2 separate regions of the Homo sapiens genome follow, and region 2 is linked to region 1. The links come from fine-mapping of genetic effects on gene expression. Tissue or cell type: CD8 T cells. Region 1 holds a variant in brackets; the other region holds the start of a gene. All regions are shown on one strand. Distances are from middle to middle.

Evidence for each region. PIP is the estimated chance that this variant, and not a neighbour inherited with it, causes the effect.
Region 2: ZFX starts here. The variant in region 1 is fine-mapped to the expression of ZFX in CD8 T cells (CEDAR, PIP 0.95).

The regions. Positions count from the first base shown.
Region 1 is chrX:24,209,349-24,217,453 of GRCh38, forward strand. ZFX (zinc finger protein X-linked) reads left to right here. Exons shown (of 10, transcript NM_003410.4): 10 at 845-6,907. The coding sequence ends at 2,028. Among named protein-coding and RNA genes, the nearest start is that of ZFX, 64 kb to the left of the region's middle. The variant GTTT/G (reference allele first, on the strand shown) is at 4,329.
Region 2 is chrX:24,146,668-24,154,772 of GRCh38, forward strand. It overlaps ZFX (zinc finger protein X-linked), which reads left to right and starts at 3,062. Exons shown (of 10, transcript NM_003410.4): 1 at 3,062-3,127; 2 at 5,024-5,133; 3 at 6,053-6,163. It overlaps ZFX-AS1 (ZFX antisense RNA 1), which reads right to left and starts at 2,987. Exons shown (of 3, transcript NR_046657.1): 1 at 2,888-2,987; 2 at 2,086-2,175. RefSeq lists enhancers at 2,399-2,498, 2,705-3,518, 6,904-6,993 and silencers at 2,609-2,968, 3,029-3,438, 3,459-3,508, 3,559-4,068.

The sequences.
Region 1 (8,105 bases):
TTTAGAGAATCTATGTCAGCATAAAGCAGGCATAATTTACAGAGCAGCAGGATAAGTACTTTAGTTCATATGACATTCCTATTCTTGTATGATGATTTGCGTATTAAAAATTTTATGGGTATATTTAAACTTTGCTGTAAGTTAACGTAAGTTATGTTTTTTGGAATAAACAGTGGAAATTTTTGTCACCAAAGTTTATTTTTATGAATAATTTTCCACCAGTTTATTTACTTATTTTTTTTTGAGGCAGAATCTTGCTCTCTTGCCCAGGCTGGAGTGCAGTGGCGTGATCTCAACTCACACTGCAACCTCTGCCCCCTGGGTACAGGTGGTTCTCCTGCCTCAACCTTCCAAGCGGCTAGGATTACAGATGTGTGCCACTGTGCCCCACTAATTTTCATATTTTTAGTAGAGGCGGGTTTTCAGCATGTTATGTTGGTCAGGGTGGTCTCGAATTCCTGAGTTCAGGTGATCTGCCTGCCTCGGCTTCCGAAAGTGCTGGGATTACAGGCGTGAGCCACCGTGCCCAGCCAATTTTCCACCAATTTCTAAATTGCTGTAGGTTTAATCACTAATTGATAAAAGTTACATATTCATTAATTTTATTAAACTAGAGGGAGTGAAGGCGGTACAGTCTTCATGAAGGAAGTTTCCAGACCATTTTCTCTATGACTAGGTTGCTATATCTCTTGTGTTGAAAAACAGTAAAAGGAATGTTAAGCAGCAAATAGTCCAATTTAGGAGTCCTTGGCCAACAGTGGTCAGAACCCACACTTTATATTCGCAAAGAAACTGGAACAGAACTTGGTTTGAGCACTCATACTCCTTTCTTTTCCTTTTTTAGCAATAATTATTGGCCCTGATGGACATCCTTTGACTGTCTATCCTTGCATGATTTGTGGGAAGAAGTTTAAGTCGAGAGGTTTTTTGAAAAGGCACATGAAAAACCATCCCGAACACCTTGCCAAGAAGAAATACCGCTGTACTGACTGTGATTACACTACCAACAAGAAGATAAGTTTACACAACCACCTGGAGAGCCACAAGCTGACCAGCAAGGCAGAGAAGGCCATTGAATGCGATGAGTGTGGGAAGCATTTCTCTCATGCAGGGGCTTTGTTTACTCACAAAATGGTGCATAAGGAAAAAGGAGCCAACAAAATGCACAAGTGTAAATTCTGTGAATACGAGACAGCTGAACAAGGGTTATTGAATCGCCACCTCTTGGCAGTCCACAGCAAGAACTTTCCTCATATTTGTGTGGAGTGTGGTAAGGGTTTTCGTCACCCGTCAGAGCTCAAAAAGCACATGAGAATCCATACTGGGGAGAAGCCGTACCAATGCCAGTACTGCGAATATAGGTCTGCAGACTCTTCTAACTTGAAAACGCATGTCAAAACTAAGCATAGTAAAGAGATGCCATTCAAGTGTGACATTTGTCTTCTGACTTTCTCGGATACCAAAGAGGTGCAGCAACATGCTCTTATCCACCAAGAAAGCAAAACACACCAGTGTTTGCATTGCGACCACAAGAGTTCGAACTCAAGTGATTTGAAACGACACATAATTTCAGTTCACACGAAAGACTACCCCCATAAGTGTGACATGTGTGATAAAGGCTTTCACAGGCCTTCAGAACTCAAGAAACACGTGGCTGCCCACAAGGGCAAAAAAATGCACCAGTGTAGACATTGTGACTTTAAGATTGCAGATCCATTTGTTCTAAGTCGCCATATTCTCTCAGTTCACACAAAGGATCTTCCATTTAGGTGCAAGAGATGTAGAAAGGGATTTAGGCAACAGAGTGAGCTTAAAAAGCATATGAAGACACACAGTGGCAGGAAAGTGTATCAGTGTGAGTACTGTGAGTATAGCACTACAGATGCCTCAGGCTTTAAACGGCACGTTATTTCCATTCACACGAAAGACTATCCTCACCGGTGTGAGTACTGCAAGAAAGGCTTCCGAAGACCTTCAGAAAAGAACCAGCACATAATGCGACATCATAAAGAAGTTGGCCTGCCCTAACAATACTTCTACAGAACGTTTGTAGAGATATTGGCCTTGAAGCAGAAAATTCATTTTAAAGCCAATCAGTCTCATTCACATACAATACTGTATATTGATTTATGCTGTGTACAAATAGAATTATTACTTCTAGTTGACTTTTTTTTAAATATACATTTTGCTCAGTAGTGTGTTCTGAATTCTATTCAGTTTGTTTAATAAATAGGGAAAACTGGCAACATGCTAGTTACTTTTAATAAAGTAATCCCTGATTCTATACCGAAGTTTTATATCTTAGAATTTTATATTTATTTAAATATTTACCTTGCTTACCTTGATGGTACTCTTCTAAGACCATTAACTTAAGGTAACTTTATATTGGTAACTCTGAAAGTATTCATGTTGACTCATTTTTTTCCCCATACATTTCTCACAATAAAATTGTCAGAGACATCTACTAATATAAATGGGAGATTTTACAGTCAGGTCTAATTATCATAACATGGAAGTCATTTACTTGTCTTGCTTAATATTTTCAGACCACTTGACAGTGAAAGTTTCCATTTGAGCTGTTGCGTCCCTGGCTTTGCTGAGTAAAGAGCAGTGGCTGGGTTCGTGTTTACTTTTCAAATATACTTCTTTTGGCTTTCTTTGGATTATTTACATCTTTTGTCAGCGTAGCAAACTTTTAGAAAACCTTATTGAAAAACTGTGCTTGCTCATGTTGTATTTTGATTATTCTGTCTGTGCGGCTTCATCTTGGAATGGTTGTGTGCTACAAATGACACTTACTGAGGACTGCATTTTGGAATCTCCTAGAGGTAACTCATGGCTTATAGGATCTTTTGCAACTTTATGTATGTAAATGTACCCTGAATTATATATATACACATATATATCATGTACCTGTGTGTATTGCTTATTTTACATATTTATACACACAACCCCAAGTAGTAGTTGTTTAAAATCTATAATGAAAAGTATTAAATTTACAATAACATGAAAGATCCAGGGATGCATGAGAGAGCATTTTGTAAGTCATGCTCTTCAGAGAGACTACTCAGGTGAAGAATTAGAAGGAAAATAAGGACACTAGTATTTTTAAAGAGTAAAGATATTTTCTTTTAAATATCTTTGGTAATTGAAACATAGAGGTTAAGATGTTTCTAGGTAGAATGTTTTCATACAATTTCACCTCCATGTCTTTATGTTTTTCTGAAAAGCAAATGAGTATCCAGACATGACTCCCACAGTTCTCTTTGAGAAGCCTGAGAGGGAACTCTGTCTTACCTAGTGAGGGGGATGGAAAAGAAGTGATGGCTCTGTGGACCAGAGAACGGGTGCTAATTATGACTTCACACTCGGCAAGTTCAGGCTGATCTGTTATTTCTCAGTTACAGTTAGCAAACTTTAAAAACTTAACACTCAAGTTGGCTTTGATTAAAAGGTAAAGATGTGTTTTAAGTGGATAAGGAAAGTCTGAGGCCTTATTTGGAACATCACTAAGTCTTCCACAGGTTTTTTGTTTGTTTGTTTTTTTTTGTTGTTTTTTTTTCTTAAGACGGAGTCTTGCTCTGTTGCCCAGGCTGGACTGCAGTGGTGTGATCACTGCAACCTCTGCAGCTCACTGCAACCTCTGCTTCCTGGGTTCAAGCAATTATCTGCCTCAGCCTCTCGAGTAGCTGGGATTACAGGCGCCCACCACCACGCCCGGCTAATTTTTTGTATTTTTAATAGAGATGGGGTTTCACCATCTTGGCCAGGCTGGTCTTGAACCCTGACCTCGTGATCCACCTGCCTCGGCCTTCCATAGTGCTGGGTTTACAGGCGTGAGCCACCGTGCCCAGACACCACATAGGTCTGAATCAGTGTCATACATTCATAAAACAAACTCGGTTAATTAGAACTTGGTTATGTTAAGACGAATCTGGGAGAACAGAAAACAGTTTTTGGGGTCCCTTCAGTTGGCTATTGGTCCGTATGCATCTAGCACATTGTAGGAGATTTAGAAATTGTCTTCCCACCCGATAGCTGCCTTGTCACCTCATTATGGTGCTCCATCCCCTGTGTGCTTAGGTTTTTACCTTTCATCTTTCTCTTTGCCATTGATGTTTGTATTCAAGAGTTATATTTTTAGGGTTAGAAATCAAAATATTTGGTGTTTGGCAAACCTCTGAAGTGCTAGACTGATTTAGTCTAGTTTTAAACCAAGTGCTTTAGGCAGGTGTGAACTCCAGCCCAAATGCCAGTCAAAGTCAAGGCATGGGTTTTCCTAGCCTATCTTATAGGAAATTCCTGTACCTTCTTGGCCCCCATAATGT[GTTT/G]TTTTTTTTTTTTTTTTTTTAAACTAACTTACAATTTTGTGATCCGTGATTCATTGCCCTGCGATTCTTGAAAGCTCTGTCTGTTTTTTTGTGAGAACCTTTAAAATCTCCCTTAATTTTTATTTTCCCAGAAATAATGTAAAAACACTTAAATGAAAGTGGAAATGTATTAATTTTAAATCCTATAAAATTAATACAGAAAATATAAATGATTGGGTCATTTAACTATATTTTTTTAAATAAACTGAAAGATAAAGAACACAACACTTCACACATTTTATATTTCTCTTACATACTCCGGAATCATACACAGTTCTTTTTAAAGCACAACATTAAAACCTTTAAAAGGTATTTAAGGGTTTGGTCAAGTGAATATGATAAAACATACTTGTCTGTATAAAGAGAAAATGAAATTGTAGTCACTGTTATGTACTGACATTAGTTACAACCTAGTTTTAATTCTTAAAACAATTTTGATTAGCAAAGCTAAAAAAAAATGGATGTTTCAGTTAAATGTTTTAAAGAGGTACAGATTTTTACAAGGACATAATATAAGTTATTGTTCTGTAGAAATATCCTATTAAATATTGTATGTCCCTCCCTCTGTACACTTTGTAAAGAAAGTAAAATACATAAAAAGAAAATCATATAGGGATGTGTGACATTATTGTAATTGTGTACTTGAGAATAACGTGCAAAAATAAAAATCAGAATATTTTCCTGTTATTGAATGTTTAGTCTATTTGATACCAGTACTAAGTTAATGCTTTTTCTCAAGGAAAAAAAATGTACAGTTTTTGTAAACCTAATAAACATCAAAAGCAGTGGATTATTTTCATCCCCCCATTTCTTAATTTCTTTTTCACAGCAGTGGAATGCAAAGTGCTTGATTGCTTTGAATTTTGTGACTCGGATGCAAATACTGGTAATATTTCAGTTCTGTGAATTTGCAAGTAATATTTCAGAGAAGTTAAGAGGTGATTGGTGAGTCCTTTGATGAGCATGTCCTTGGAATTCATTTTTTCTTTTATCTTCATAAAGGATTTGTTTTATTAGCATCTCCAATTCCCCTGAGATAAATTACTCATGCATAAAGTGGTTTTTGAGAGCACTTAAAGTTCATTTCAGTATTAATTTACAGCATATTTAATCAGTGGGGACTGTTACCACCTCCACAACAGAAATCATGCCCTCGAGTTACCCCACTGCGCCCAGTTTAGAGGACTAGTAGATGCTAACATACTAGGGAATGGTCATTGCCACAGTTAAAAATCGGCAGTTAAGTAAATGTCAGGAGTCAAAAGAGATAGAGTTGTGCCATCTTTGATTTTATAGACAAGATTCTGCAGTTCTTCCAACTGTATGAACAAACGTTTGCCTAATAGTTGAAACAATAAATTAAAATTTTAGGTAAATGACGAAGGGAATGTGGTGAATGTCACTGTCCAGAGCCATAAATCAGACAAAACCATACATAGCATGCTGAAAAACTTTTGTAATGGAACACCCAACAAATGACACCTAACCTGTCTGTGATCCAACAAGTCCGATAACATGCTGCTGTATTTGTATTCTCTGGGAATCTCAGTATTAATAATTTCATTTCCCACAAATTCTAGCATTCATGTAAGGAAAAACATGGCTAATCAATATCTTAAAGGGGCAATCTTTCAGAGCAGTGGTTTTCAAAGTATGGCCGGACAGCATTGGCAGCATCTTAATCTCCTGGGACTTTGTTAAAAATGCAAATTCTCAGCCCCACCCTAGTCCTACTGAATTGGGAAACTGGCGTGGGACCCAGCAGTCTTTGTTTTAACATGTTCTCCAAGTGATTCTGATGCCTGTTCAAACTTGGGAAACACTTTTAGAGCACTTGAGGAACCTAAAAGATGACTGGTTCAGCATTTTGTGTGGTAGATAAGAAAGAAATTATCACAAAAAATCAGAAATGAACAGTGAGAGAAAAATAGGACCCCAGACAGTTTATACCTTCCATTTGCTGTTTTAAAAGTGTGAGCCTGCCAAGTCAACAAGTATGCCTTTAGCGCACATGTAAATAGCCTGCACTTCCTAAATCTCGTGTGGCCTCCCATGGTTACATTCTTCAAAGGTAAACTGAGTTGAGAGGAAGATTCAGCATTTAAAAGAGAAGGGTTGAAAAAGATTGTGTGTGTGTGTGTGTGTGTTTAATTGGCCCAGGGTTACTTAAATAAATCATAACCATTTTGCCACATTCTGTAACTGTTTAGCTAAGGTCAAATTAAGTTTACCCTATGGATTTTGTTTCATCTTTTGTTTCGTGTATATACTGTTTGCCTTTTTCATAAAAATCTTGGATTTGTTATATATTGTTCCTGTTATTTTTGACATCTTTGCTATTGTAAATAAATTACTATTTTGTTTTAAGTTACCCTAGTGGAGTGTTGGCTATAGACAAGGTATATACTCGAAACGAGGAGACTTAAATCACACAGTTAATGAATTCCCAACTTGTTTGAAGCTGGAGGTGATTCGACTCCCTTCAGTGGTTCAACACTAATAATAGCACCAAGGAACATGTCACTGGTGCATATAGGCATAGCATCTGTACCGACTTGGATTTCAAAATCATGTTTTGACCTCTGTGATGGAAGTACTCACTCCATGAAGTTTGAGGTCAAAATCAAGAATTACTTTCCTTTACTTGGTTTTTCCTATTCAATTGGTCTCTCATGTTACTTGTATTGCTGGTATTGGTGGACACAAAGGATCTGGCATTACAGTGACCTGTCGAGACTGTAAAGCCACTAGGAGACTTGGCTACTAAAAACCTGCTCAGGACTTCTAGATGTTGTTTGGCTCTGAACTACCACAGAAGTATCTAAACACATTGACTAAAAGTATAGAATAGTTAACTAGACCTATATTATTTTGCTTTCTAAGAGGCCAGTTTCTGCTTTTAAATGCAGAACCCATTTCCTTTTGTCTGAGATTCTTTGAAATAGGAGGGGTATTGCAAAGCCATCTGTTGGGGTTTTGAAGGTTCTAGTCACCTGTCCTCCCCTCTTGAGTTCTAACCACATTGAAGATAGACAAGAAACCACCAATTAAGTGTGCGATTTATTCTAGTAAGGCTGGATTGGGAGACCCAGAGGCTGAGATGAGTCTGTTTCCAATCTCTTTCCCTCCAATGTAGGCCTTGACTGATGCAGCCAGTCATTTGAAGGCATGGGGCCTACCTTCCACTCCTTTGTGAGCTATCAGGAGACTAGTTCTGTCATCAGAGAAAGGGAGCATCTACTCCAGCCCTCCCAGGCTAGAACACAGGAAAAGGGGGAGAGTTCCCTTACATCATCCTAATAAAGGTTAGTCCAATTCTGGATTGCCCTCTGACATTAGCACACTAGCAACATGTGAGGTTTCGCCATTAGCCTTGCATGTTTGTGTCCACTTTTATTGATTTTTACTGTTCCCCCTTGAAGTGGTGGTTGTGGCAGACTTTCTAAAGTTCCTTTCTCTCTCAAGGCAGTATGCTTTGGTGGTTCTTCAGAAAATTAATTTTTAAAGGGCAAATGTACTTACTATACAAAGATGGAAATCTTGCAAGTTATTTTTATTGCATGCTTTCGTAACAAAAATTGGGAAAATGATCACCCACAAGGCCACCACCTTTATTAAAGGGATTGCTTGTCTTTGTTCTCTTCTAGTCTTAGTCCATACACATAAATCTTTTATCTGTCTTGTAACCACAATATCAATTCTATTCTGGGTTCAGGGATTTTCTTTTTCAAACAT
Region 2 (8,105 bases), 63 kb before region 1:
TCCTTTTATTATGTTTACTTAAGTGAGAAAATGAAAGTACTTAGGAATGTTTTTATTTTGCCTTACACAGCCTCCTTATTCGAGTTCCCCAAGGGCAAGCACATCTTTGTTACTTCCTGTGCCCAGAATTCTAAAGGTCCCTAATACGAAAACAATTATCAAGGCAAGATAGGCTGCAGTAGGTCCTTTAAGTGCAAGATGTCTGGTGCTTAATTACCAAATGCTTTCAAGGATCTTAGGTGTCCTCAAGGTCCTATTGTGAGTACTTTCATAAAATGCATTTTGTATTTTGTCACATCAAACAATTTCTGATCTCTGCTGTTTACACTTCCTTTTCATCTTCACTTTATCATGAGTATAATACTAAGTGTACTTCTAGTGAAATGATTTTTACCATTGTTCTTTTACCAGTTAAACAATGTTCTTTACAGACTTCCATAAATGGGCTTAAAGTACAACTTTACCTTTTTTTAACTAAAAAAAATATAGTTGACCTTATCTGTATAGTCATCTATAAAATAACTGGACTTTATAAAGTTTGCTGGACTTTAATAAAGGTTTATCTAATCTAATAGAACTAGGCCATCCTTTCTTTGTTTCCCACCAAAGTTAACAGTCTCTTCCTGTATGAAAAGTAATGACAAAGGGCTCTTTGAAAGTATCAATCCCTAAACTACTTGTGATCTTTTAAACTGAGAAAACTTCTTTTTCTTTCATGCTCCTTGGACACTGTTTTCTTAAGTGCTTTACACTGGTGGATGTATAAGTATTTTTGATGGTAATTATGGAAAAACTAACAAGAATGGTGACATTAGGTTTTTCTGTCTTGAACATGCTGCTTACAGTTGCATGGATGAAGTGAGGCTCTATTCTTCTTCTTTTTTTTTTTTTTTAATAGAGACGAGGTCTCACCATGTTACCCAGGCTAGTCTTGAACTCCTGGGCTCAAGTGATCCTCTCGCCTCGGCCTCCCAAAGTGCTGTGATTACAGGACTGAACCAGGGAACCTGGCCTCCATTCTTGCCATACCGTAGCATCACACTGAGGCCCTTGGAAAGTACTTAAACGCTGATTATCAATGTTTTGAAATATTAATGTGGGCGGCCGGGCACGGTGGCTCACGCCTGTAATCCCAGCACTTTGGGAGGCCGAGGCGGGTGGATTACCTGAGGTCAGGAGTTGGAGACCAGCCTGGCCAACATGGTGAAACCCCATCTCTACTAAAAAAATAGAAAAATTAGCCAGGCGTGGTGGCAAGTGCCTGTAATCCCAGCTACTCGGGAGGCTGAGGCAGGAGAATCGCTTGAACCCCGAAGGCAGAGGTTCAGTGAGCCAAGATCACGCCATTGCACTCCAGTCTGGGAGTGCAAGAAATATTAATGTGGGCACACAAGCTATTTCTCATTTTTTTTTATTGAAACAACATTGCTTAGTTTCATTTACCTTTCTGTGAAATGTCTTTCTGTGAAAGTCTATCACAGCCTGATGTAATTTTTATAAACAATGAATACATGCTGTTACTATTTTTGAAAGGAAATTTAATCGCTTGGAAAAATTCAGACTAAAGCCCCGAGAGGAAAATTATCATCCAGTGCATGCTCAGAGATTTCTTCTTACTCTACTTTTGTTTTTCCTTTTTGAAAGCATTTGTGATTGAGAGATGTCTGAGGGAAGGGACAAATTGCATTCTGGGAGTTTTAAAGAGTTATGTCAGGCAACTAAAATACGTGGCCTCTGTATTTAAAGAGATTTCACACCAGTATACTATTTGCTTTATAATTTTTGTGTTTCTTATTGTTTAAAAATGCCTTTAACATTTAGTGCTGTGTTAAAGGATAGCATGCCAGATTCCAGATTAATGTAAAGACTCCACTATTTAACTTTTCCCTAGTAACTTTAAAACAGAGTTTGGGTTCCAAGTTCAGCATGGAAAGATAGCATAAACATTTAAACTAAGTAAAGTGCGAAATACACATTTTTGAAGTTGGTAAGTGCTGTTTAATCATTTTCCCCTTCTCTCCCAAGTCTTTTGAAACTTCAAAAGGCTTGTTTAAGCAGTGTGTTTAAAAAAAAAAAAATCCATACCCAATTGGGCTCCTCTCTATTAAGGAATGTGGAAAATTCATGATTTATGAAACGATGACACCAGTCTTACATTTCACAGGCTCCCAAGCTCTGAAACACGGGTACATAGGAAAATACACAGAAAATTCCTGTTCTTTGCAACGTGCGAAACGTTTCAAAATGCAACTTTGCTCATCTCCCTCCCCCGTACAAACTAATAAAATCAGTTTGGCTCTGACTGCTTATTTTTAAAAAGTAGACGGCCTGGTAGGTGCTCTAGGGATAACCCTTCTCCCCCCACTCCACCCCCCTTCCCGCACACCCATTTAGACTGGCAAGCCCGTTTTCATTTTATTTCAAAGATTTTTTTTTTTTAAGCGAAGGCAGGGGACGGCGGGGGTTGCTAAATTTATCTTCCTCCCCAGCCACGGGGATGAAGAAAACACATTTACTGCGGGCGGGGGTCTGAGGGCCTGCAAACAACTCGAGCTGGAGCCTCGGCCAGGACCGGCGCGAGAGGCGGTAGGTCTCCAGGGAGGCCCCCGGGGGGCGGCCGCGGCCCACGGGACATGGTGGGGGGCGGCCGGGCCGCCTGCCTCTCCGCGGGGTCGGCCGACCGCGGCCCCGCGCGGGCTTTACGGCCGAGGCGGCGGCGGCAGCGGCGCGTGTGTGGCGGCGGCGGGCGGGAGCGCGGAGGAGGTGGAAAGAAGGGGGGCGCTGTCACGGAGACTCCGGCCGCCGGAGACCCCGCCGCAGCGAGGCCACTGGGCTCCCCGGTCGCGGGGCGGGAGCGGCGCCGACACGGGGTGCCAGGAGGACCCACCGGGCGGAGGAGGGGGCCTGTCTACCCTTCCGCATTTTCCTGGGTCTCTCTCCCGGGCGGTGACGTGACGTGCTGACGGCGGGCCCGTGCCGGGGAGCTGGGCCGCTTTTTGTCAGCTCCGAGCTCGGCCCCTCCTCCCTCCCTCCGCCCGCCCCACCAGCCGGAGCCCGGCCCAGTGCTCCAGAGAAAGGCCGGCCTGCAGCACCCGCCACCGTCGCCGGCCGCCCGCACGTCCGTCCGGTGAGTCCCGGGTGCCGCCGCGGCCGCGGGGCCTAGTGCGCGCACAGCGGCCTGGTCTCGGCCTGGTCGGCGGCCCGCAAGGCGCCCTCCCGCGCTAGGCCGGGCGGCGTGGCGCGCGGCGCCGAGCAGGCCCCGAGGAGGCCGCAGTTAGGCCCGGGGAGGAGCCCGGCTGCCCCGAGCGGCGGCGGAGGCGCGCTCCGTAAGCGGGCGGGGGTTGGGGGAGGGTCGCCCGGTTGTGCCGGAGGCGGTCGAGGGGCCCCGGGTCGGCTCCGCGGCCGACCTGGGGCACCGCGCCGGGGTGAGGCCTGGCGAGGAGGCGAAGGCTGCAGGCGTGAGGTGAAGGCCGCAGGCCGGCCGGGCCGATTTTCGCTATGTAAATATCGGTGAGGGGGGGGGAGGGACGGGGGACAAGATGGCGGCGGCTCGGCGCCTGCTGCAGGGGACGATAGAGGGGGTTGCCGGGAGGGGGAGCCGCCATCTTGGAGGCGGTGTCTGGAGAGAAAATTCCGCTACAGCCCGTGAGGGGGGGTGGGAGAGCGGGCGGCGGCGGCAGCGGCGCCGGTGACGGGCCCCGGAGGCCCGGCGCGGCGGCGTGTGCGCGCGGAGGGGCGTGCTCGCTCCCCGTGGCGGCCATTGCCCTTGCCGCCATGATGAGCGCTCGGGCTCCAGGCGCTCGGCGGCAGCGCCACCTTCCTGCCTTGCCTCCCGCAGCCCCGTGACTGGCTGCAGTTTCCGCTGCGTTTCAGCTGAGCTGCCGCAGGCGGCCACCGCCGCCGCCCGGACGCCGGGACCGTTTCACCCTCAGCGCCCCTGGCCCTGCGCCTTCCCCCGCGCCTGTAGCCACCCGAGGGCAGTCGGGGCAGGTGGCATTCCGGACACCTGGGCTTACCAGGGCATACGGGACCCCAGGAAATGTTATTTTTGCTTAAGTCAAATCATATGTGGCTGCTAAGGTGCTTTCGATGCAGTTGTTTTTCCAACAATCTTTGCCGCCCCGAGTATCTGAATAAAGGAAGAAAAATAAAGATTGATGGGAAAGTTTTTGCCATTCTTTTGTCCTATAGGGAAAAAAATTGCACAACACGAGAGCGGAGGAATAAAATTTTGAATCATTCGTACTCATTTATGTGGAAACAACTTTCTTGAAAAACGATTTAAGTAGTGATCTGTTGGTGGTATTTTTTTAAATCGAGGAATAAGGGCAGACTTTTTTATTTTCTTATTGGAGGACAACTTAGTGTGGTGCATATTTATTGTGCATTTGCCTGTCATGGTATTTCGATTTTTCATTTGTGAAGTTTTAAGGCGGAGTTTCATCCCCTAACGTACTTTTTTGATTGCACACTGTGCAACTTTCTTGATAAACTCGGAGCCTACTGTTAGCGATGCACCGTGCTAGATGCTAAGAAACATTAAAAAGGTTCTTGTAATGCAGACGGTGGCTGCAAGAAGTCTCATGTTTAGAGGTAGGTGGGGCAAGGTGAAATGCAGTAAAGTGAGAGGTACAACTAATTACTGGGATTTCCGAGGGAAGCAAGGTTGCCATTGGAGGATCAGGGAGGGACGGGTTCCTGAAGTATTAATAGGTGGCATTTTGAGAAGGTTACCGAGGGATGGGTAGGACTTTGTTAGGTAGAGGTGGAGGTGGAGAAAGGACGTTTCAAGGGTGAAGCTTCTTCAGTAAACAGTAAGTATTTACAGTTTGGCAAAAGTGGATGGTATAGGTAGGGGAGTGGTGGGAATTCAGGCTAGAAAAGTTAGATTGCAGAAGGGCTTGCTTGCCAGGTGGAGGGGCTTATACTCAATGGGGTAGGCAGCGGGGGTGCCCTCAACTAGAAGAGTGATGGCACACCTGAGCTGCACCTTGTTATTTACTTATTTTTTATTTTGAGACAGGTTCTTGCTATATTGCCCCAGGCTGGTCTCGAACTCCTGGGCTCAAGCCGTTCTCCCGCCTCCCACTGCCCGCCTGTCACTGCCGTCTGTTCCCTGAGCTGTGCTTTACGGTACTTAGTAGTTCCATTGGACTAGGAAAAGTTTCAAAGTTGAAAAATAATGAGAGTAGTAAGTTGATCAGTGTTTTCATTATCAGAACGATTACAAGAATGTTCAGAAGTTAAGCAAATTTTGCTACTTTTGGAACGATGCGTCTCTATTAAGACAGCTGCTCCTTTTTTCTATCCTGATTTCTCATCCGAAATAATCTTTTGCTCAGAGTTGTCAGAATTTCTATGGTACACAAATAGGGAGGGGTTTCTAACATTTCATTTACCATGGTTGAAAAGTACAGGACTAGTGCTGTGGGTTATTTGACGAAAATGAGAAATGAGTATTCCCGTGGTAATTTTTTTTTTTTTTTGAGACTGAATCTCACTCTGTCGCCCAGGCTGGAGTGCAGTGGTGTGATCTTGGCTCATTGCAACCTCTGCCTCCCGGGTTCAAGTAATTCTCCTGCCTCAGCCTCCCGAGTAGCTGGGACTACAGGACCCTGCCACCATGCCTGGTTAATTTTTGTATTTTTAGTAGAGACAGGGTTTCATGTTGGCCAGGCTGGTCTCGAACTCCTGACCTCAAGTGATCTGCCTGCCTTGACCTCCCAAAGTGCTGGGATTACAGGCATGAACCACCGTGCCCTGCCTGTTTCCTAGAATTTTATGATGGAAACCTTTAGGTGGCATAGATACCCATTTTCAGTTTTTCCATTTTTCTAGACTGTAACAGGTCGTGAGCAGCGGTGCTCCATGAAAGGGCTGGAGGGAATGAGAGTCTCATGTTTATTATAAAGGGCTATGGTTTAGAAAAGTTCGAGAAACAGTGCATTGCATGAGGCTGACTAGAAGCAAGTTGAGAAGGCGGGCTGTGGTTGTTGAGGTGTTAAGGGTAAACATAAACTTAGAAGAACCAGGTGCTTTTATATTTTGACAGCTGGGAAAGACATAGAAGAACTATTAAGAAGATAGAATTGTTTTGCTGCGCAGTACAGCAACAGTGGATGTTCAAGATTAAGATTAGAGTCAAGTTGTGTGATTAAGACAGGTAAGTGTGTAGTTTAGTTTCAATTAGAAATGGTTAAATATAAAATTATTTTTGCCTGAAAGGGTAGACCTTGAAACTTTGGAAAACTGACTGGTGGAACACCTTCGAACCCAACCACCCTGGATGAATAAGGTGTTAGTTTTTAATTTCTGTGTATTTTTCAGATAGATGCAGATTTCTTTTTTTAAAAAAACATGCTCACGAATGTGTTACAAATTTTTTTTTCCACATTGCTTTTTGTAAATGCTTACTCTCATTGCAAATGCTTACTCTCACTTAACCCATTTAGACTGATTCTGTCACTGATAATCTTCTTTGTATTATTTGTTCTTGTGTACACTGGCAATTCCAAACTTTTTTTCACTCTTAAAACTACTCAACGGGTCCTTGAAATCTCTCATCTTCAGCAAAGATTACCCAGTCTTTCACTTCACTGAGAAGGGTAGATGGCCATCTGATAAAGAGCCAAGTCTCCCCTCCCTTCCCCTTCATGCCTTTCCTGTCTTCACCTAGGCCTTCCTCCTTTTGCCGCAGGGGAGGTTGCAGGAGGGATTGCTGTCTCACAAGCCCCACTGCTGCTCTGAGCCTGCTCTTCACCCTGGCTGCCTCCTTAGGGACCAAGCTCTGTGCGTGATGCCGTCTCTTGCATCATTAACCTCTCTTTACAAATATTCCTAGGTTTGCTCATCTTACAAAAGCCTCACCTGTCTTCACTTTCTTTGCACCCCACTTATTCTTAAATCCAGTATTACCCAAATTGGGAAACTTGCACAGCATGTTAACAGGTGTGTTATATAAAAGTGCTCTGTGTTTCAGAAACTCTCTGTGCCTTCTCTGTCTTCTATGGTGGGATTCCCCTTAATTTATCATTTAATGTATTATATTTGAACTGTGTGTTTATATTTTTTCCTTCTACACTGTGAATATAGAGACAAGTTCTGATTTATCTTTGTCTCCAAGCAGTACCTGGCATATGGACCATTATCTCTCAAAGCAATAATTTCGGTTACTGGGTACAGAGAATTCTACGTAGTTAATAGTTTTCAGCTGTTCAAAAATCAGGTATCCAGTCAGTGTGTTTTTTGACTCAGGGACATACATATTAAGGCACACTTATTAGGGCACCAGGTCAAGGAGTAACCCCTCCCACCACCCCTTATCTGATTGGAATATGGCCAGCCTATTCTTATTCCTGCCAAGTTATTTTTCCAGACAACATTTTATAAAACCCAGGTATCTTGTAATTGTATTTTACTCAAAGGAAGTATACTCTAAGGAAATTGTGTGGCCTTGAGGTACACAGCCATTAGGCATTTAAAAAATATATTTAAAAAGTTTTATGGAATATTTTTAAATTACTGAAAATCAGAATCACCCAGATTTAAGAGATCTTAATATTTTGCTACATATTTGATTCATATCTTTTTGTTGTTTAAAGAAATAAAATCTCACAGATTCAAAGGGTCCCTCCCCATCCCCTTCCTGTCTTCTTTTCTCCAGAAGTAACCACCTGTCCCAATATGTATGTACCAAAACAATATCAGGTATTGCTTGTGTGTTTAACTTTACATAAACAGTATCATAACCATACCTTATATATTATTTTTACTTAACAGTGTGTTTTTGAGATTTATCCATGTAATGTGTTTAGTCCAGCAGTTTTCAAAGTGTGCTGCAGGGATTCCTGGGGATCCCTAAGATTCTTTCAGGGGGTCCATGAGGTCAAAACTATTTTCATAATACTTTTTATTTGCTCTTTTCACCCACATTTTCCTGTACACTATAGGAATACTGTACAGAGGCTGCATGACATATGATGTCATAATAGATAGAATGCAGAAACACTTACGGGAATCCAGCCGGTTTCTATTAAGCCAGACATGAAAGAGATTTGCAAAAATGTAAAACAGTGCCACTTGTTTTACTATTTTTTTTTGTTTAG